3 linked regions of the Homo sapiens genome follow. The protein of the gene in region 2 interacts with the protein of the main gene of each other region in a pairwise test. Each region holds a gene or a part of one and is shown on either strand. Other genes may lie near its edges.

Evidence for each region. Proteins that work in one complex are often made in the same cells at the same time.
Region 1: the proteins of FKBP5 (region 2) and CILK1 interact in binary tests that used the Homo sapiens proteins (3 or more experiments, as listed by UniProt).
Region 3: the proteins of FKBP5 (region 2) and ULK3 interact in binary tests that used the Homo sapiens proteins (3 or more experiments, as listed by UniProt).

The regions. Positions count from the first base shown.
Region 1 is NC_000006.12:53,051,822-53,058,842, reverse strand, and holds part of CILK1 (serine/threonine-protein kinase ICK), read left to right. Parts: intron 1-7,021.
Region 2 is NC_000006.12:35,573,895-35,580,915, reverse strand, and holds part of FKBP5 (peptidyl-prolyl cis-trans isomerase FKBP5), read left to right. Parts: exon of another isoform or gene 1-359; intron 360-694; coding exon 695-880; intron 881-3,682; coding exon 3,683-3,922; intron 3,923-4,973; coding exon 4,974-5,081; 3' UTR 5,082-7,021. UniProt on the Homo sapiens protein: Immunophilin protein with PPIase and co-chaperone activities. Component of unligated steroid receptors heterocomplexes through interaction with heat-shock protein 90 (HSP90).
Region 3 is NC_000015.10:74,840,154-74,848,109, forward strand, and holds the start of ULK3 (serine/threonine-protein kinase ULK3), read right to left. Parts: upstream 3,004-7,956; 5' UTR 2,953-3,003; coding exon 2,851-2,952; exon of another isoform or gene 2,521-2,850; coding exon of another isoform or gene 2,386-2,520; intron 2,268-2,385; coding exon 2,127-2,267; intron 2,043-2,126; coding exon 1,922-2,042; intron 1,357-1,921; coding exon 1,252-1,356; intron 555-1,251; exon of another isoform or gene 489-554; coding exon 345-488; exon of another isoform or gene 164-344; coding exon 81-163; intron 1-80. Other genes in the region: SCAMP2 (secretory carrier-associated membrane protein 2), read right to left, coding at 4,930-5,064, 5,320-5,440. UniProt on the Homo sapiens protein: Serine/threonine protein kinase that acts as a regulator of Sonic hedgehog (SHH) signaling and autophagy.

The DNA of each region.
Region 1 (7,021 bases), about 17 Mb from region 2:
TGATGTCTGCCCTTATAAAATGCATTTTTCTGCTTGTGGGATCTATGTGAGTGTGTGTATTTGCCTGGTGGTTCCTTGGGAGAATTCTGGATATAATGACCTCTCTGTGTATGTTGATCTGAAAGCCTGTGAATAGTATCTCATTTAACTGTTGTCTTTCACCTGTGGTCTTTGATGACTGTGGCTTTCTGAGAAGGGCCTATGTTTAGAGTATTAGAACTCTCCTATCTGTGAACCTCAGTGTTTATGGTTGATGTGGTTGAATCAGGGAGAATGCGCAAACAGAGGTGTGTGTGTGCCGGATGACTTATACACGTTTTGGGATTACAGTGTAATTGTGTCTTAGTTTGTGGTTGTGCTTACCTTTGAAATACAGTTTTAACTTCCTTATAAAAGCACATGTGTTCTAGAAAATTACCTAGTAAAAAGAATTTGGTGAAACAAATCATTTTCTGGGGCAAATTGCATTAAAATGCTAAGGAAATGTTGTGGCAGGAAGAAAATCAGAGATGCCTTTGATTGCAGCCAAAGAAGTAAAAGCAGCAGCTCAGGCCTACCTCAAGGTGGTAACCAAGGTTGATATGGGCATCTTCATTCAATCTGTCTGCTCCTAGTTAACTGCTGTCCAATATTAGGAAAAACTACTACTCAACAGGTTTTAGGGAAACACTCAACCCAAACAGAAGGCTTCTATTCCTGATTTTCTTCCAAGGAAACTGAACTATCTTTGCACATTAAGTACCTGACTCTCTGTGCTTTGAAAGTTGAAGTCTTCCTGGGTAGGAAGAGTGTCTTGTCGTGGGACTTACCTGAGCAGGCTGAAATCAAATCCAACATATGTTGACATGTGAAGTCATGTTTGAGTTTGAGGATAGCACATCTTCAAACATCTGCTCCCCCCTTTTTTTAAACTATATGGGCTCAGGATTAGCAAAATATTCATATGCTTTTTACCAAGGAGCACGTGGGGAACATTTGATACATCTTTAGTTGGCTATAAAACATGTATTATACTCACACATTTCAAAATATTCTACTCTGAAGATAGCAAGTATTCTGTTCTTCTTAGTTGGATCTCATCTGTAGAGTGAGAATGTCAAGTGATCATTAAGGTCCTTTACAGAAAAAAAAAATTCTTAACTCTATTGTCTGAAGTTTGTTCAACATTAGGCTTTGAACATAGTTCCTAATGAATTTAGCATTCAAATCTATGTTAATTAGCATTCAGTTATATTTTATCTTTAAATAAGCTCATCATGGCTGCTATAAAAGATAATGCCTCTGAACCAAAAGATAAAGTATTATAAGTGTGATGTCCAACTATATTTGACAATATCATGAAAGTAACTATCTGCGTGAACTTGTAGTTCCTAGCAGATGATTGTCATCCTAACTCACTTTTTTTGAAATGAAAGGGCCACAATAGTGCCTTGCTTTTCATTTGGTGCTTTTCCCACCATGTCAAGAACCCTTAGTAGCCACTTAATAAATGTATAACGATGGCCCAGAGCTTATGAGAACCACACGTTTTTTTAGGAGAGATCAGTGTGAGTTATTTTTTACCTTTCTATAGGTGAAGCATGACCTGTGATAAAGTATTGATAACATGTGACTGCTCTTTTGACTACCATAAAAGATAATGCCTGAGAACCGGAAAGGAAAGTACTATTGTATAATGCCCAAATACGTATTTGGCAATATCATGAAAGTTACTATCTGCATGAACTTGTGGTTCCCAAAAGATAGTTATTAATGGTTTTGCCCTCTTGGACATTGCCTTTGCTTTGAAAGAGAATTTACTAGAGAATGATTTAACTAAGACAAAGGGGAGTAAGAAAAATGTAAGATATACATGCCTTCATGTGATCTTAGCTGTTGAAAAGCAAGTTTTTTCCTAAATTAGTGTAAAAGTTTTTAGAAGGAGTCATAATTTTGGTACCCTAGTCCCAGTACAGTTGTCCAGTTTGCAAAGAAGTGGGGCGTGACGGGATGACAGTGAGGGTGGACGTGGTAGTATAGGAAAATCATCTATGGTCAGGATTGCCTTTTAAAGCTCCATAAGTTGTTCATTCATTAGTTAATTCATTGAACATGTCTTTATTGTGAGTCCGTACTTGTGCCAACTATGCCAGTTCTCTGGGAACTGAGTACTGGGAATACAGTTGTGAATATTGCAACGTTTCTGACCTCACAGAGCTTATATTCTAAGGTTAAACACAGCTTGTATGTAGCCCTGTAACCTAGGGGTAAGTGAGGGCTCTATGGAGAGTACTAAAGTGCTTCTGCTTATTTGGGGGATTTCCTCATCTTCAGGGCTTGACAAACTATGGCTTGTGTGCCAGTCCTTCCTGCTGCCTGTTTTTGTAAATAAATTTGTACTGGAACACAGCCATGCCCATGTATTTACATATTGTCTTTGACTGCTTTCATGCTACAATGGCAGAGTGGAGTTGTGACGGAGATGGAGAGCCTGCAAAGCCTATCCTGTTTACTGACCCTTCACAGAAAAAACGTGCTTATCCCTGCCCTATTTTATTTTTACATTAAGCCTTTACTTCCTTTAATTCATTTTGATTTTTTGTATACATGCTAGCAAAGCATCTTACACTGAGATCAGCTCCTTAGTCAAATGTGTTGTAATAGCATATAAATACTGATAACATGTGGCTGTCCTTGTAACTACCGTAAAAGATAATGCGTTAGAACCAGAAAGGTAAAGTATTATTGTGTAACGTCCAGCTACTTATTTGCCAGTATCATGAAAGTTACTATCTACATGAACTTGTGATATGCTCTTAGTCACTCCCCTATCTTCACTATCCCTTATCTTGCCCACCCCTGAAACACAGGCAAGCAGGACTATTGCCACCCTCGGCAGTTTTCATTAAGCTGGGGACTCTCGTTCTAGCTCATCTACAGTTTCACACATGGCAGGGTAAAGGTTTGTTTTTCTGGCTGTTTTTTTATTTTTTATTTTTTTTAACATTTCGCCTTTACTTCAGTTCTTTACAGTCCACCAAAGCCAACTATGTGTCCTAGTTTAAAAATCATCTGCAAGTGATTGAAGAACTTTTTTAAGGTTCAAGGCGTGAGCACCTTTTATATTGTAAGAGAAGCGACAGGGAGTTATGGAAGCTTCTCATGGGATTAAGGACCTAGTGCAGGACGAGTTCTTTTTTCAGAAGCTGGGATTGAAAGAGGAGAGGGATGGTAAAGGTATGAAGAAGTTTCTGGGGCACAGAAGAAGGCACATCATGTAACGGATTATCTTCTCTTGTTAACATCCAGTTGATGCAATAGCTGAATGCATCTTTAATTCACTCCTCTGTCAAGGTAAAGACAAAGCAAGATCCATGTAAAGAAGGTCCTTTTGGCTTTGTAACTGCTATTCCTTATGCAGAAAAAAAGCAGTAGTCCAAGAGGCAAAATGCTTAAAAGGTTTGCTTGCTAAAATGTACAGAGGCAGAAGAATTAGGTCCAGGAGAAAAACATAAACCCGGATATACTATTTCTAGTACCTTTTTAAAAGAAATTAACAGTATTCACTGACTTTTGTAAAGTTAGGACACATTCAAACCTAGAATACGAAGTCTAATTATAAACCTGTAAAGGTAAAATGGAACTCAGAATTACCATGAGAAGGGTCATCTAATGATTTTGCATATAATCCACTTTTCCTAGGAGGATAAATGAAAGTAACAGAATCTTTTCAATGTAAGATAATTAATGCAAAGGGAGACAAGCTCCTTCTAAGGAACTGAATGGTGTCAGTGGGCCTGGTAAACCACAACTCCCAGAGAACCCCAAGTTTGCTGTAACTTTTTGTCTCCTGTCTTAGAAAATGTGTAATGATGGCATTAATTCATTGATTAAGGTTTCAAAATAAAGAATGAACTACAATTTTCCCTGCCCCTCGCCTCCATTTTTTAGGCTGTGAATGAGCAAGGCACCTGATGTGAGCTGCTGGCCATGAGCAAATGTTCTTTGCCTCCACCGAGGATTGACGCTGAGGGGAGGGAATTGGGGCAAATCACAGGAAGCTTTTCCCCAATGTCACCTAGCCAGGAACATCATAACATTGACTTCAAAGGTTTGCTGGAACTCTTTGAAAGAGAGATAAAGCTGTCTTTCTTTGGTAGTTGAGTACAGCCTTACCCAAAGGCCAAAGGCCTGATCTGACCGCATGGAGGGGGACTTTCTGTGATCCTCTGAGACTCAGTCATCTTGGCATTGTTGTGGGAGGGCCCAGGCTGCCTGCCTGCCCCAGCTATTCTGTGGTATTCACTGTTCTTCCACTTCAGAACTTCAGAACTTTTAGTTGGGCCCAACAGTTTATCTTTGTTTTGTGTATGACAAAATAGAAGCACTGAGAATTTTGAGGTACTTAGCCAAGGTGGTACAGAAAATAATAGCAAAGACTAAAACTCACATTTGGGCCCTTCAAACAATCTTTGAGGACTTGCTACTGCAAGTGGAGTGAGAAGACAAAGATGAAGCAGTCTTGGAGAGTGTCGAGGCTGAAGCAGAGGGTACACCTGCAGGTCATTGCCACGGGGAAGGGGCTGGCAGTGAGGTGAGGACAAGGCACTATGGCATCAAGGGAGAGGACCATTCTCGGGTCTATATGTGTAGGTTGGGGCAGGAGGCTTGGAAGAGGTGACATGTGAGCTCGAAAGAGAAGGAATCGATGTTTAATGTTTACTGGGGCCTGGCTGAGGCACTGGGGCACTTGTGCATCTCTTGAAAGAAAGGTGTGTAGCATACAGGGTCCTTCGGTGGCACTGTCTTCTCCGCTAACCTTTGTTCATGTGATGCAAAAAGCAGAAACATTTATCCTTTTTTTTTTCTTAGACAAATGCTAGCTCAATTCCTGATACAGAGTCACAGAATCACACAGCTTTAGAGGAAGAAACCACCTTAGAGCAAGTCCCATGCCCTAATTCCACCAAAAGTAAACTCAAGGACCAAGAGATGCCCCGAGGCACAGCAGATCAGTGCTGAGTGGAAACTGGAACCAGTCCCTCACTTTGCCTCCACTGTGGGCATGTTGGTGCTGCCAATGGCTCCAGAGGATTCGCTGATATTTGATTGCAGAATGAAGACAATTAGAACATAGCCATATCATTCATTTTCATATTTGGGCTTTGAGATACAAAGTACTACTTCTGTTCCTGTCATTTTCAGATCCTCCAAAGATTTCATGATCTTTTGAAAGCTTTCCCTTAAGTTTGGTACAGTCAGCCTGGGTTCCTGTCTCATTTCTGCCACATTAGTCGTATAATCTAGACATGTAACTTGTGTCTCAGTTTCCTTCTCTGTAAAATAGGGATAATTGTAATAGTACCTGCCTGGTAGAATTATGAGGGTTAAATGTACTAATATATGCATAAGCACTTATAATAGTACTATGCACATACTAAGTACTAAAATTATCATGTTTTGGGCATATTTGATATATGAGGGTGCTAAGTGTAGATTCGTTGTAGTGAATGATTTATCCAAGTTAATTCTTGGAGTCAAAGCAGAATTTAGAAATACTGCGAGTTAGAAATACATGCTAATTCTCAAGGTAATGGACAGGCTGCTACATTCCATTCACTTCTCAAGCAGTGTTAACTATCTGTACCAGAAGCTGAATTTAAATGCTGTCAGGGCAGAGGAGGAAAATAAAAGACTCAAGGAAGCTGGGTGTGTGCTTGTCAAACAGTAAGAAATTGCTCTTCTCTTCTAAAAAAGAACAATTTTTCTTCTCTTCCAATTTTTCTTTAAGTATAAGGTTTTTTTTTTTTTCAGGCTTTTACTTTGTCACTTTTGTTATAGGCATAGGAACAGAGAAATATTTTTCATCCAGTAAAACAAGTGGCTATGAAGGCACACAAAAAAATGACAGCTAAAAAAAAAAAATGGCAAGTGGCAACAGGCAAAAAATGGGGACTGTGGTGAGCTGCAGAGCACACGCCCAGCCTGAAGAGGTACGGACATTTCTTCCACTTCTTATTACCGTGAAGGGCTAAGGACCCCAGGTGGTTAGACCTTCAGTGTTTCCAGAGAAGCTCCAAATAGGGATTTATATAGGAAATTCCCTATTTTTTATTTATTGATTTTTTTTTTTTTGAGACAGAATCTCACTCTGTCCCAGGGTGGAGTACAGTGGTGCGATCTCTGCTCACTGCAACCTCCGCCTCCTGGGTTCAAGCAATTCTCCTGCCTCAGCCTTCTGAGTAACTGGGATTACAGGCATACACCACCACGCCTGGTTAATTTTTGTATTTTTAGTAGAGACAGGGTTTCACCATGTTGGCCAGGCTGATCTCGAACTCCTGACCTTGTGATCTGCTGCCCTTGGCCTCCCAAAGTGTTGGGATTACAGGTGTGAGCCACTGTGCCCTGCCGAAATTCCCTATTTTTAAATCTGGGATTCAGCCCCCAGAGTGCCAGTGTGCCATCTCTGGTCTACACAGCATGGAATCTCCATATGCTAATGTCATATACTCAGAGATTTCAGGCTAGAATTGTCAAGTCTTGTTCACTATGCAAAGTTAGAAGTATGCTTGGATAAAGAAAATGTACATATACACCATGGAATACTTTGCCGCTATAAAATGGTATGAGATCATGTCCTTTGCAGGGACATGGATGAAGCTGGAAGCCATCATCCTCAGCAAACTAACACAGGAACAGAAAACCAAACACTGCATGTTCTCACTCATAAGCAGGAGTTGAACAATGAGAATACATGGACACAGGGAGGGGAACAACACACACCAGGGCCTGTTGTGGGGTAGGTGGGACGAGGGGAGGGAACTTACAGGACGGGTCAATAGGTGCAGCAAACCTCCATGGCATACGTATACCTATGTAACAAACCTGCACATTCTGCACATGAATTCCGGAACTTAAAGTAAAATAAAAGAGATAAGTACATTCTATATTTTAAAACAGAATGTCCTTGTTCGCTGGGTAAGTAAGCACAGATTTCTGATTTCATTTCTAAAACACCCAACTTTGAATGAATAACACT
Region 2 (7,021 bases):
AAAGTAACTTCCTTTTCATTTTTTTAGTGGCATAGTCTAAAACTGCTCACAATCCTTTTGAAAGACTAAAGAATAGGCCAGGTGTGGTGGCTCATGCCTGTAATCCCAGCACTTTGGGAGGCCAAGGCAGGCGGATCACAAGGTCAGGAGTTCAAGACCAGCCTGGCCAACATAGTGAAACGCTGTCTCTACTAAAAATACAAAAAAAAATAGCTGGGCTTGGTGGCGGCCACCTGTAGTCCCCAGCTACTCGGGAGGCTGAGGCAGGAGAATCGCTGGAACCCGGGAGGCGGAGGTTGCAGTGAGCTGAGATGGCGCCATTGCACTCCAGCCCTGGAGACAGTGCGAGACTGTGTCTCAAAAAAAAAAAAAAAAAAAAAAAAAAAAAAGACTAAAGAATATTAGCACCAAAGAACATAGCCCAGAAGCCTTGCTGTACTACACCTGCTGAAGGGACGGATGGAAATGCTGCAGAGCAGCACTAGGCAGTGCTCAGGCACTGCCCCAAACCAGCCCACAGGCCATCGAGGCCTCCAAGGGAGTGGGAAAGGTACCTGGAGAGCCATCTCCAGAAGGAAAGAAAGAAACCAGCTGTACCAGGGTTTGCTGGAGGGGTTGCTTCACTTTGAGGATTTGCTTTTCTTTTGTACCCCCTCAAGAGCTGAGTACAAGTAATGACGCTTTTTTATCCTAGGGAGGCAAATACATGCAGGCGGTGATTCAGTATGGGAAGATAGTGTCCTGGTTAGAGATGGAATATGGTTTATCAGAAAAGGAATCGAAAGCTTCTGAATCATTTCTCCTTGCTGCCTTTCTGAACCTGGCCATGTGCTACCTGAAGCTTAGAGAATACACCAAAGCTGTTGAATGCTGTGACAAGGTAACATCGTGTCTCCTGTGAGATGGACTTTAGATACTCCAGATCTTTTCTCCATCTCTGTCTTTTGCTTCCTCTCAGCCAAAGGTTGCAGGATTTTTCATTTTGCTTTTTTTTATTTATTTGAATGTTTGGGATTATTTGTTTCTCAGTATGAATTGGGAAATTCAGCAAGATTTTTATTACAGTCAGACTTTTATGATACCTAGACTGTTTATCATAATGCATTCTGAAGAAAAGTTTTGATTAAAATTAAATAATTTTTATCCACGACCTTCCTTATAACTGTAGTATTTATATCAGAGTAGACGTATAACTCCTCAGGTTCAGTTTAATAAGAGAAGATTTAACTTAAGCTTTTCTGGACTTTAACAGACTGCAACTGTTCATATAAAGCATATATATAGGTCAATTTTTATTATAATCATTTATTCACTGATATGCATAAATAATATGAAAGGTCCACAGAGCATCAGCAGCCTTTTTATTTTTACATTTGTCTTATTAATACTATCTTTGGTCTTTTGAGTGCTTACACACAGTACTCTATAACAGTGGTTTATCATCTGTATCGTTATGTATCGTTCTGATATATTTATACACCAGCCGATACTATTTTAGGTATCTGGTCTCAGAGTGAACAGTATATATTATACTGTGGGTAAAAGTAAAAACTAATCATTGGATGTATCTTAAAGGTAGACATAAAAGGATAAGAAAAGCAAGGCAACTATTTTGTACATTCTTTGTGAGATTATTTTTGAATTTTGTGGATCAGTGTTTCCTATCGCATCCTCTCTCCCAAGACCAGTTATTAATTTTATATGTATTTTTTCGTTTTTTTCATACAGAGCGGAGAGAGAGAGAGAGAGAGTGTGTGCGCGCGCGCGTGTGTGTGTTTTGTTTGTTTTAGAGACAAGTTGTTGCTATTTTGCCCAGGCTGGGGTGCGGTGGCTATTAATACACATGAACATAATGTACTACAGCCTCAAACTCTGGGGCCCAAGCTATCCTCCCACCTCAGCCTCCTGAGTAGCTGGGACTACAAGTGCATGCCACCACACCCTGCTAATTTTTAAATTTACTTTTGTAGAGATGGGGGTCTTCCAAAGAGCTGGGATTAAAGTTGTGAGGTACCACACCCAGCACAGCCTTGACTACATTATTTTTCTGTCTTCTATTGACAGAAGCAGTCATATAGCATCACTATTAACCCTATCTTTGGCAATAGGAAGCCTGTTCTCCTTATTTTCCTCTTTTTTTTTTTTTTGGAGATGGAGTCTTTCTCTGTTACCCAGTCTGGAGTGCAATGGCACAATCTTGGCTCACTCTAACCTCCACCTCCCGAGTTCAAGCGATTCTCCTGCCTCAGCCTCCCAAGTAGCTTAGACCACAGGTGCCGACCACCACACCAGGCTAATTTTTGTATTTTTAGTAGAGACAGGGTTTCACCATGTTGGCCCGGCTGGTTTCCAATTCCTGACCTCAGGTGATTTGCCACCTCAGCTTCCCAAAGTGCTGGGATTACAGGTGTGAGCCACCACAACCCAGCAATTTTCTTTTAGCTTTGTTGATTATATCTTTCTCTTTAAAGAAGGTTTTAATGTTTATGTAGTCAGATTTGTCGTCTCCTTTCTAGTTAGAAAAGACTTCCCCACACCAAGATTATAAAAATAACTGAAGCCAGGCACAGTGGTTTACACCTGTGACCTGTAACCCCAGGACTTTCGGAGGCTGAGGCGAGAGGATTGCCTGAGCCCAGGAGATAGAGGCTGCAGTGAGCTGTGATTGAGCCACTGCCCTCCAGCCTGGGCGACAGAGTGAGACCCTGCCTCAAAAAAATAATGATTATATTTTACATATTTTAAAATAAAAAATAATTGAAACATTTTATGGTTTTTTTTAATATGTAAATATGGTTGATCTAGAATTTACTTTTGTGCTTACAATATGAGGTAAGAACTTTTTTTTTTTTTTTTTTTTGGAGACAAGAGTCTCACTCTGTCACCCAGCCTGGAGTGCAGTGGCACGATCTCAGCCCACTCCAACCTCCACCTCCCTGGTTCAAGCAATTCTCCTGCCTCAGCCTCCCAAGTAGCTGGGATTACAGGCGCCTGCCACCATGCCCAGCTAATTTTTGTATTTTCAGTAGAGACAGGATTTCGCCATGTTGGCCAGGCTGGTCTCGAACTCCTCACCTCAGGTGATCACCTGCCTCAGCCTCCCAAAGTGCTGGGATTAGGGTGTGAACCACTGCACCCGGCCTTAACTCTTATTTTCTATGTGGATAGCTGCCATCCTGGCCCCGTTTATTTTAAAGTTAACTCTCCACTGATTCACATTACCACCTTTGTCATTTTCAAATGTTTTTATATGCAGACACATGACTGTTTCTGAATGATTCGTTCTGTTCCACTGAGCTGTTTGTCCACATGCTAGTAACCAAACTGTCTTAATTTCAGTAGTTTTAAAGTTTGTCTTTTTCTCTGGTAAGACAAGTGCCTCTTATTTTTTTCTTTTTTCCCAAATTTTTTCAGCCATTCTTGGGCACTTATTTGTTCCAATGAACTTTAAAATGAACTTCTCAAGAGCCCCCTCTCAAATCTCCTTGGGATCTTTCTAGAAATTGCATTAAATGCAGAAAATAATTTGGGTAGTAAATTTTGATCAGTAGTATGTAATTATCTTGAGCCCCATTTTTTTAAATACACTTTTTCCATCTCCTTTGGCAAGAGAACTTTGGTAAGCTGTTTACTGAATTTATTAAAATTCGTCCTTTCTAAAATATAGACCATCTATTCCTAGGCCCTTGGACTGGACAGTGCCAATGAGAAAGGCTTGTATAGGAGGGGTGAAGCCCAGCTGCTCATGAACGAGTTTGAGTCAGCCAAGGGTGACTTTGAGAAAGTGCTGGAAGTAAACCCCCAGAATAAGGCTGCAAGACTGCAGATCTCCATGTGCCAGAAAAAGGCCAAGGAGCACAACGAGCGGGACCGCAGGATATACGCCAACATGTTCAAGAAGTTTGCAGAGCAGGATGCCAAGGTGTGTGCAGAGCCTGATGACTGCAGGTGGATCAAGAGCCTGACCATGCCCCTTTGATTTTAGGGGACAGGAACAGCTAAACAACCCAAGAGGCTCAAGAGCAGGGAAAACGATTTCCAATCTAATCTGAGGCTGCTTTGGATCCAAAGGTCGAGTAGGGCAGTTCCAGTCACCAAAGGCACACGTCATGAGAGATGAGAAAACTAAATTCCCTTCAGATGTATTAGATTGGTTCAAAAGTAATTGTGGTTTTTACCATTACTTTCAATGGCAAAAACAGCAATTTTGCACCAACTCCCCCCGCCCGCCCCCCGGGCCCCTGCCCGAGTCAGAGTCTCACTCTGTCACCCAGACTGTAATGCAGTCGTGCTAACATGGCTCACTGCAGCCTTGACTTCTCTGGATCAAGTGATCCTCCCACCTCAGCCTCCTGAGTAGCTAGGACAAGCACACTACCACACTGGGCTAATTTTTTAAAATTTTTTGTAAAGATAGGGTTTCACTTTGTTGTCTAGGCTGGTCTCGAACCCCTGGCTTCAAGGGTTCCTCCTGCTTTGGTCTCCCAAAGTGCTGGGATTATAGACATGAGCCACCATGCCCAGCCCTTTTGTCATTTTTGAAAAATTGTAAACCCATCAGGATTTTTTTTTCAAGTAAGACTTACGATTTTCCCAGGAAATGGGATGTTATAGGAGCCCCATCATCACACCTGTTATCTTGAGGGTCGGCAGCCAGCCTGAAAAATGTGGCAGGAGAGGTCTGTCTGCAGAGAGGGCGGCCTCCCTACAGCATAGTTGGCATTCTGGTCCTGTCCCCAGTCTCCAGGAATGCCCAGACTTCATTATCCCACAGCTGTCCCATGTGTCAACCAAAGAAAGGTGAAGCTCCCACTCTAACTATTGGTAGCACAGCCCTGACCTACCCAGCTAGATATCCTAGAGAAAATCATTGCAATACCTCGTGTTTGGGACCTGATACACAGTCTGGAGGAGCCAGGAATTATTTCACTTCTTTATTCTCTAACCTTCTTGATTGCTTATTTCTTCCTTAGGAAGAGGCCAATAAAGCAATGGGCAAGAAGACTTCAGAAGGGGTCACTAATGAAAAAGGAACAGACAGTCAAGCAATGGAAGAAGAGAAACCTGAGGGCCACGTATGACGCCACGCCAAGGAGGGAAGAGTCCCAGTGAACTCGGCCCCTCCTCAATGGGCTTTCCCCCAACTCAGGACAGAACAGTGTTTAATGTAAAGTTTGTTATAGTCTATGTGATTCTGGAAGCAAATGGCAAAACCAGTAGCTTCCCAAAAACAGCCCCCCTGCTGCTGCCCGGAGGGTTCACTGAGGGGTGGCACGGGACCACTCCAGGTGGAACAAACAGAAATGACTGTGGTGTGGAGGGAGTGAGCCAGCAGCTTAAGTCCAGCTCATTTCAGTTTCTATCAACCTTCAAGTATCCAATTCAGGGTCCCTGGAGATCATCCTAACAATGTGGGGCTGTTAGGTTTTACCTTTGAACTTTCATAGCACTGCAGAAACCTTTAAAAAAAAAATGCTTCATGAATTTCTCCTTTCCTACAGTTGGGTAGGGTAGGGGAAGGAGGATAAGCTTTTGTTTTTTAAATGACTGAAGTGCTATAAATGTAGTCTGTTGCATTTTTAACCAACAGAACCCACAGTAGAGGGGTCTCATGTCTCCCCAGTTCCACAGCAGTGTCACAGACGTGAAAGCCAGAACCTCAGAGGCCACTTGCTTGCTGACTTAGCCTCCTCCCAAAGTCCCCCTCCTCAGCCAGCCTCCTTGTGAGAGTGGCTTTCTACCACACACAGCCTGTCCCTGGGGGAGTAATTCTGTCATTCCTAAAACACCCTTCAGCAATGATAATGAGCAGATGAGAGTTTCTGGATTAGCTTTTCCTATTTTCGATGAAGTTCTGAGATACTGAAATGTGAAAAGAGCAATCAGAATTGTGCTTTTTCTCCCCTCCTCTATTCCTTTTAGGGAATAATATTCAATACACAGTACTTCCTCCCAGCATTGCTACTGCTCAGCTTCTTCTTTCATTCTAATCCTTGCTATTAAGAATTTAAGACTTGTGCTTACAATATTTTTGACCTGGAGTGGATCTATTTACATAGTCATTTAGGATCCATGCAGCTTTTTTTGTCTTTTTAAGATTATTGGCTCATAAGCATATGTATACTGGTTTATGGAACTTTATTTACACTCCTCTATCATGCAAAAAAATTTTGACTTTTTAGTACTAAGCTTAATTTTTAAAAACAAAATCTGTAGGGTTGACAAATAAATAGTTGCTCTTCTACACTAGGGGTTTCACCTGCAGGTTTGACACGCAGTTGCTCGCTTTTCCTGCCCTGTCAAGCTTCTCTGTTCTGGCGTGAGTTGTGAAAGAGTTGAAGACAGCTTCCCATGCCGGTACACAGCCAGTAGCCTAAATCTCCAGTACTTGAGCTGACCATTGAACTAGGGCAAGTCTTAAATGTGTACATGTAGTTGAATTTCAGTCCTTACGGGTAAACAGATTGAGCATGGCTCTCTATTCCCTCAGCCTAAGAAACACTCATGGGAATGCATTTGGCAACCCAAGGAACCATTTGCTTAAACCTGGAACATCTCACCTTTTTAAATCCTAAAAAACACTGGCAGTTATATTTTAAATTAGTTTTTATTTTTATGATGGTTTTATCAAAAGACTTTTATTATTAGATTGGGACCCCCTTCAAACCTAAAAATCAAGTTATTTCCTTTTATAATACTTTTCTTCCCCATGGAACAAATGGGATCAATTTGTGAGTTTTTTCCTTTAATGATAACTAAAATCCCTCTAATTTCTCATTTATGCTTTTGTCTTTTTTATGAAATATTTCTTTTAAAAGCCCCAGTCTCACCTACGAAATATGAAGAGCAAAAGCTGATTTTGCTTACTTGCTAAACTGTTGGGAAAGCTCTGTAGAGCATGGTTCCAGTGAGGCCAAGATTGAAATTTGATACTAAAAAGGCCACCTAGCTTTTTGCAGATAACAAACAAGAAAGCTATTCCAAGACTCAGATGATGCCAGCTGTCTCCCACGTGTGTATT
Region 3 (7,956 bases), on a different chromosome or scaffold from region 2:
CAGGTCAGAACGAGGTCTAAACCCTCAGGGCCCTGACTCCCTCTGCCCCCCAGTGGTCGCTAAGGCCCTGCTAGACACACCTCGATGACCCGGTTGCTACGGATCTTCTCTTCCAGCTCCGAGAACGACCTGGAGGCAAAGGGGGGCTGCCCGAAGAGGGCTTCTGTGGAAGGGAGGCAGAGCGGAGGCTGGGAGGGAATGGGTCAAGCCTGGCCTGACGCCCCTCAGCAGGGGCCCTGGGCCAGCAGTCAGTTTTCATCAGAACCCTTCAGAAGTGGCCCAGAGAGGCCTTGCCTGAGGAAACTGTAGGCCTCAGGGTGAGAAGCAGGGAAAAGAGGTCTCACCATACAGGATGACCCCCATGGACCAGAGGTCCACGCGGGCGTCATACTGCCGCTGGCACACCATCTCGGGGGCCATGTAGAGGGGGGAGCCACGGAGCACGTGCTTCTCATCCCACGGGGACATGTGTTGTGCGAAACCAAAGTCTGCAGGCAAGAGGAGAGGCAGCAGGGCTTGAATTCCAGCTGCTTCAGCTCCTGACTTGTAAAGCCTCACCCCAGGCTCCTCTCCACCCTCCAGACCCGCCAGGATCAACCCTATTTCCAAGCCTCTGCTCATCATTAGGCTGGAACACCCTCCTATATCTGCCTCTGGGGTATAAAACCTACCCATCCTTCCCAGCTCCCTTGGGCACCTTTTCCTAGGAAGCCCACCTGATCACACCAGCTACCTGCATAAGCCCCCACCCTCTCACTGTCCCCCCAGGCTTAGGTTCTATCACAGTCTCTGGCCTCCAGTGTCAATTATCCAAATCTTATCAAGGGTCACCACCTCCTACTCCCCCACCACACCCCTCCTATGTGGCCACAGATGGAGTCACAGACTTGAGCCCCAATTCTGATGACAGACCAAGTCCTGTCCCTGCCCACAGAGGGATCCCTGATGCTTGTCACACGCTGAACCCTGGCACTGTTCCCAGATTGACCCCTAAACCTGGACACACAGTGAGTCCCAACTCTGGCCACAGACTGAGCCCTAACTCCACCCATTATGCTGCTGGACTTGAGCATGGGTAGCCTGAGAAAGCTTCCACCTTTTGATGACAGGGCCCAACCCCAGACTTCACGGCCTGTCACTCTTTGAGGACTCTATAGAGGGCTCCATAAGAACCAGGGCTGCTGAGTGAGCCCAGGCAGAGGGAGGCCTCTGCACTCTCCAAACCTCATCCCTGCTGTTTCAGACACAGACCTGCCAGTTTTAGGTGGGGCTTCTCCAAGGAGCTCAGTAGAATGTTCTGTGGCTTCAGATCCAGGTGAGAGATATTCCGTTCATGCAGGAATTGCAGGGCGCTAGCTGAGGAGCAGGACCCACGAAGAGAGACAGTTCAGAGCCCATTCCCGCCTGCCTCTCGCCTCCCCGGCTCACATCTGCCTCCTCAAGCCTGCACAACCCCAGTTCCTGCCTGGCTGGTCTAATGTTTTCCATATAAGCACCAAGATCACACCACTTCTAGGAGTTTGCCACCCCACCCGAGTGCCCACCCTCCTTCCCTCTGCCCCTTCACAAGTCTCCCCACCTCTCAGAAGCTTCTCTGGATGCCCCAGCCCTTGAGATCCTGCTCTTTTCCTTGGCACAGCACTTGAGTCCTACCTACAGGACTCTGGAATGTTCTACAAGGTCCTTATATTATGTTCTATGTATGGAAGCCTGAACACCCCACAGAGGGGTTACCCCCTCATCTCTCCCACAGCGTCCTTGAGCAAGGGTTGAGTGTATGAGATAAACAGGACCATAAAATTTCAGGCTGTGCAGGAGGCAGCTGCAATGCGTGCCAAGGCTCTAAGCCTGGGGGAGGGGTGGGATGGTGGGGGGCAGAGAACAAGGGACAGAGTGTCAGGCTGGTGTCACAGGCCTTTACCTAATTGCTGCATGAAGACACGCGCCACCTTCTCAGGCAGAATCCTGCGGGTATGGATGAAGCGAGACAGGTCGCCCCCTGCGCAAAACTCCATGATGAGGTAGATATTGTCACTGTCCCACTGTGTTTAGAGGCAGAGAGGCGGCCTGAAGAGAGTGTCCCTTCTCCAGCTCCCTTTGGCAGCGGCCCCGCCCCAGGCTCACACCTGAAAGTCTTTCAGCTGCACAATGTGGGGATGTCGAATGCCCTTGAGGATCTCAATCTCCGTGAGGAGGTTCTCCACCGATGCCTTGTTCAGACTTTTCTTGGCTACACACTTTATGGCTACCACTTCACGAGTGTCCTTCTGCGAGACAGGAGATTTGGGGACTCTGCCTTGAGGGGGCCAGGACCCTTGTCTGACTGGAAAGGCTCTATCTGGTTCCCTCTGTTCCCCCACCCCGCCCCTCCCCGGGTCTACCTACTGCACACCAGCACCGGGCTTCCCAGCTTTCCCTTGTGAGGCCAGTGAGGAATGCTGATTCTGGAATCCTGGCTTCCCGACACAGCCTCAGCCTGGTCTTCTCCAACCCTCGGCTAGCTGATCCATTTCTTTGCATTCTGGAGTGCTCCCGGCAGAGGCATGTCACTCAGGGTTCTAGAACCGCCCACTCTGCCTCCCAACTGGCTCCAGTCCCAGACTCCTCCCAGCCCACCAGGTAACCTGTTTTGAGCCTGTTCTTCAGCCACTGACCCTGCAGGTGGGTGCAGGTGCGCTCTTTAAGACCTAAGCGTGGCAGTCGGCTCCAACCTCCGCCGAGGGTCAGCTGGGGCGAGGCCGGCCTCCCGCCCCTAACTATTCCCACACTGTCGCTAACCTCTCAGAGTCTCCCCGGCCGGCACCAGCCGAGCTAGCTCGGGCGGGCACGGGGCCATCGGCCGGCACCCACCTTGGCGTAGGCCTTGTACACCGTGGCGTACGTGCCGCTGCCCAGGCGCTCGGTGAGGATGAAGCCGTCCAGGCGCGGGGGACCCCAGCCGGGCCCCGCCATTCCGGCCGCCTGCGCCCGCGCGGGCGCTTCCTCGCTGCGGGCGGCGGTTCCGGCGGGTTGCGGGGCGGGCCGAGCACTGGGTGGCTCCACGCTGCCCCCAGCGCCGCCCGCCGGAAATGCAGCGCGCATCGGGGACGCGGATCCGCCCGGCTCCCGGCGCCCCTCCCCTGTCTCTGGGCCTCGCCGGGTCACGCGCCCCGCCAGTTCCTGCAGGGCCCACGTGGGGATACGGAGGCCCCGCGAGCCTAGAAGTTAACAACGGAGGACGGCCGGCGTGGTCTCCGGGGACTCCTAGCGGGCGCAGAGGCGTCTAGAGATCGCCCACGTGAGGGCGCGGGCGGCGGAGCGGGCGTGTGTGGGGGCGACGGCGTCCGGGAGGCTCCCAGGGCCCCTCCCCAGGACCCGCAGCTCTGAAAGGAGAGCTACTGGCACGAGAAGGCGCCTTTGGAAGAGGCCGCGTTGGCTTCCCAGGCCTCCCAGCTGCTTTTCACTTTTCTGAGGAAGGGCCTTGACCTATTTATTGCATCTTAACTGTCCCCGCTCTCCAATCTTAGCAGCGGCGCCCAGCCCCTAATCCTGTGGGCTGCCCCGTCCTCCCAAGTCCACCAGACATGTGGACCCGTGTTGTCTGAAAATGTTTTTATTTTTACTTAAGCACAAAAATTGAGACGTAACATATACATTTGTACATAGAGGGGAAAAAATACCAGAAAGGAGTTCATAAAACCCCAGCCGCTGCCAGTATCATTCAGTGGCTGGGGCCTGCGGCTGTCTCGGGCCCAGAGCCGGAGGCTAGTTTTGTGGGAAGGCACCCCAGTCCACACACCCACTCGGCAGCCTCGAGGGACAGGGTGCTGGTTTTAAGGGTGGACTCCTACGTGTCCCATCACAGTGACACACCCCCCAGGGTGTGAACCAGACTCCACTGGGTATTAGGGGGCCCTCCGAGAGATGGCTTATCAGTCCCTGCTGAGGGATGCGGTTCTGGACTGGCTGGCCCTGCCCTTCCTGAAAGTCTGGATGCTGCTGATGGGGAGCATGGGCGGGGCAGGTGGCATCTGAGGCAGAGACAAAGGCAGCCGTCCCTCGGTTCGGGGAGGGGGGGGGGTAGTCACAGCAAACAGGGCCAAACCAACCACACCAGGACAGGCAGACCCCACCCTCCTAGAAGACGCTGGACGCTAGGCAGGACAGCTTGGGGTCAGTGTCCTTGGTCCCTTCCAGTCCCCAAATCCCAACCAACGGCATTGTACATTCAGAAAGTCTGAAGAGAGTAAGGCTCAGCAAGGGGAGGGCTCCAGAGGGCTCAAAGTGCCATCCCCTGCAGGAGGGTGCAGGGGGATAAAGGGCTATTAATCCGTTTCTCAGGAACACGAGGCAGGGAAGAGCTTAAGGCAACCAGCCTTCTCTGGATCCGTTTATGAGGCAGAGAAGAGCTTGAGGCAACCAGCCTTCTCTGGAAGCCTGGAGACCACTGGAGTGACCTGGGGAACAGATCTGTCCACCAGAACCTGTGAGAGGCTTATTCCCAGCCCAGGCAGGAAGGACTGGGCTGTGTCTAAGAAGCCAGATTCAGGCCAGGCCTGCAGGGTGGGGGAGTCAAGGCCCAGGACCCTGGCAGAAAGCTCCAGCTGGGATGGGCCCAGGTCAGCCTGTGATCCCAACTGTGTGGGGGTGTCTGTGTGTGCACAGGACGAAGAGAACTTCAGTCCCACTGCTTCCAGAGACAAAAGAATCCTACCAAACCATCACCAGAGAAGGAAAGAGAGCTTTGTTTTTTTTTGTACATAGAGGGGGAAAAAATTCCCTGTCCCTCCCGTTCCAGGGAGAGCTGGTCGCTGAGGGAGGAGGAAGAGCCACGGCAAGAACCCTGCCAGGTCTGTGCTGGGCACAACCACCACCACATAAGGCACCCACGGAAAGTGCAGCTCAGAAGGCAGGCGAGAGAAAGGCTGAGGGGGAGAGAAGAGAGGAGGACTAATTCCCCTGGAAGGCTCCTTGGGCAGCAGATGAAGCAGCTCTGTGGAAGGTTCTGCTGCTGAAGATGCCCTGGGAAAACTCCTCCTGGGCCTGCTGGAAGCTGGCCCCTGTCCGTCGGTAGAGGGAGTGCACCTGGCGAAGAGGGGTGGGGTGAGAGAAGCCTGTCCTTTGGGCCCACCAGGAAGCCAGCCATCCAGGTTATACTCCCAAAGGGGTCACCAGAAGCCTGGCACTGCCTGACCCCCCACCCAGATCCCTGGAGAAAGGTACTGGACCTTTGGGGGCCTAGGATGCCCAACTGCAGTGGTGAAAAACATCTCGTGGCAAGGGCAGGAAACGGTTGCCTGCCTCCTCCCATTTGCTGTCAGCCCTGCCCACACCACTCACCCGCTGCAGGAGGAAGACTGAGAGCACGGCACAGAGGGTGAAGAAGCCAGCCACCACCATCATGATGACTGATATGGCCAGGGAATGATTATCCAGTGTAGACAGGGCTGCAATCCAACCGCTATAAAGGGAAGAAGAGGCCAGAGGGAGCAAAGTGGGAGTGGGCTCCAAAAGTCAGCATAAGGGGCTCTTCTCCAAGTGGCTGCTGTGTCCTGACCATCACCTTGGCATCTCCCCACAGCACAGGGAGCCCTGTGAGCCAGAAGCCCTTGGCCTGTGAGGCCAGACCTCCGTGAAGGCTGACAGGCCCACACTACCCCATTCACAAGGGGAATCTTCTGGTTATGTGAGGTCTGAAAGGGAGGATGTGGTTGCTGCCTTCACAGAGTCAGAAGTAGCACCGGGCTGGGTGCTATGGCTCTCACCTGTAATCCCAGCACTTTGGGAGGCTGAGGCAGGAGGATCGCTTGAGCCCAAGAGTTCAAGACCAACCTGGGCAACAGAGGGAGGCCCTGTCTCCATAAAAAATAAAAAAAGGCCAGGTTCGTGCCTGTAATCCCAGCACTTTGGGAGGCCAAGGAAGGCAGATCACTTGAGGTCAGGAGTTTGAGACCAGCCTGGCCAACATGGAGAAACCTTGCTCTACTAAAAATACAAAAATTAGCTGCGCGTGGTTGCACACGCCTGCAATCCCAGCTACTCGGGAGACTGAGGCAGGAGAATCACTTGAACCTGGAAGGTGCAGGCTGCAGTGAGCCGAGATCATGCCATTGTACTCCAGCCTAGGTGACAGGGCGAGACTCCAACTCAAAAAAAAAAAAAATTAGCTGGCTGTGGTCATACATGCCTATGCTCCCAGCTACTTGGGATGCTGAGGTAGGAGGATCACTTGAGCCCGTGAGGTTCAAGGCTGCAGTGAGCTGTGATCACGCCACGGCACTCCAGCCTGAGCAACAGAGTGAGACCCTGTCTCCAAAAAAAAAAAAAAAAGAAAAGAAAAAAGAAAAAGGGCTGGGCACAGTGGCTCAAGCCCGTAATCCCAACACTTTGGGAGGCCAAGATGGGCGGATCACGAGGTCAGCAGATCGAGACCATCCTGGCTAACACAGTGAAACCCCATCTCTACTAAAAATACAAAAAATGAGCCAGGCATGGTGGCAGGCACCTACATAGTCCCAGTTACTCGGGAGGCTGAGGCAGGAGAATGGCGTGAACCTGGGAGGCGGAGCTTGCAGTGAGCAGAGATCGCGGCACTGCACTCCAGTCTGGGCAACAGAGACTCCATCTCAAAAAATAATTAATTAAAAAGGTAGCACTGGGCCGGGCCTTTTTCTGCTGCTTTGGGGGTGGGGAGTATGGAAAGCGTGGCTGCTCACTCCTGAGGACCCACCTTCTGTGAAGGAGGATCACTGGCCAACTTGCTGTCACCTGTCTGAGCCCCATGTCCTCATCTGTAAAAGGGATATCCTCATATTTCTTGACATCAAAACTTACTACAAAGCTACAGTCACTAAAATAGTGTAGGACTGGCATAAACATAGACATATAGATCAATAGATCAATGGAATAGAACTGAGATTCCAGAAATAAACCCATACACCTATTGTCAGTTAATTTTTTTTTTTTTTTTTTTTTTTGAGATTGAGTCTTGCTCTGTAGCCCAGGCTGGAGAACAGTGGTGTGATCCCGGCTCACTGCAACCTCCACCTCCCGGGTTCAAGTGATTCTTCTGCCTCAGCCTCCCAAGTAGCTGGGATTATAGGCACCTACCAATGCGCCTGGCCAATTTTTGTACTCTCTAGAAACAAGGTTTTGCCATGTTGGCCAGGCTGGTCTCAAACTCCTTCCTGACCTCAGGTGATCCACCCGCCTTGGCCTCCCAAAGTGCTGGGATTACAGGCATGAGCCACCGCACCCAGCCAACTCAAGCCTTCTGATTCCCAGTACAGGTGCAAACGGCAGTCATGAATCACAGCTTTTCTACCAGGGTCTTACTTAGGTAAGGAGTAATGAAATTGGGTCACTGGTCAAAAGGGACCAGATTAACAACAGCAGGGCAAGAAGCATGAGGGGTGGTGGGAGGGCAGCGTGCACTTGTTTGGAGGGCAAGGGGAGGCAACCTTTCTCTCCCCACTGCTCTGGACTTGCCAGCTCTGCCAGAGGGAGGGGACCAAAATAGCACCGCCCTTCCAGGCTCAGGCTGTCAGCCAAGTGCCAGTCTGACCTTTCTGCAATGCTCCCTGTGCACTGGGGCAGAAAGGAAAACATCAGCCATCAGCTTTTCTTTTGAGATTAATTTTGAGCTGAGGACTGAGGTACCCTGGAAACTCAAACCAGCCGTATGCTCAAAGAGGGCAGCCAGAAGAAGCCTGTCCAGGGGAGGTGAGGGAACCGTCTCCTTAAGTTACAAGGCATCTGGAAAAAGTTGCAGCTCAGAGTCTGCAAAGGCCTGGGCATCCATCAGCTTTCAGGAGGGTGTGGCAGGAGAAAAGGAAGAGGCTGCAATCCAGTGCAGGACACTGTCATGGTAGCCTAAAGAGTCAAGCCAAGTTCACCCACAATACCCTGGAAAGTGGAGAGCAAGGGAAGATAGTGTCTTTTTTTTTTTTTTTTGATACAGGATCTCACTCTGTCACC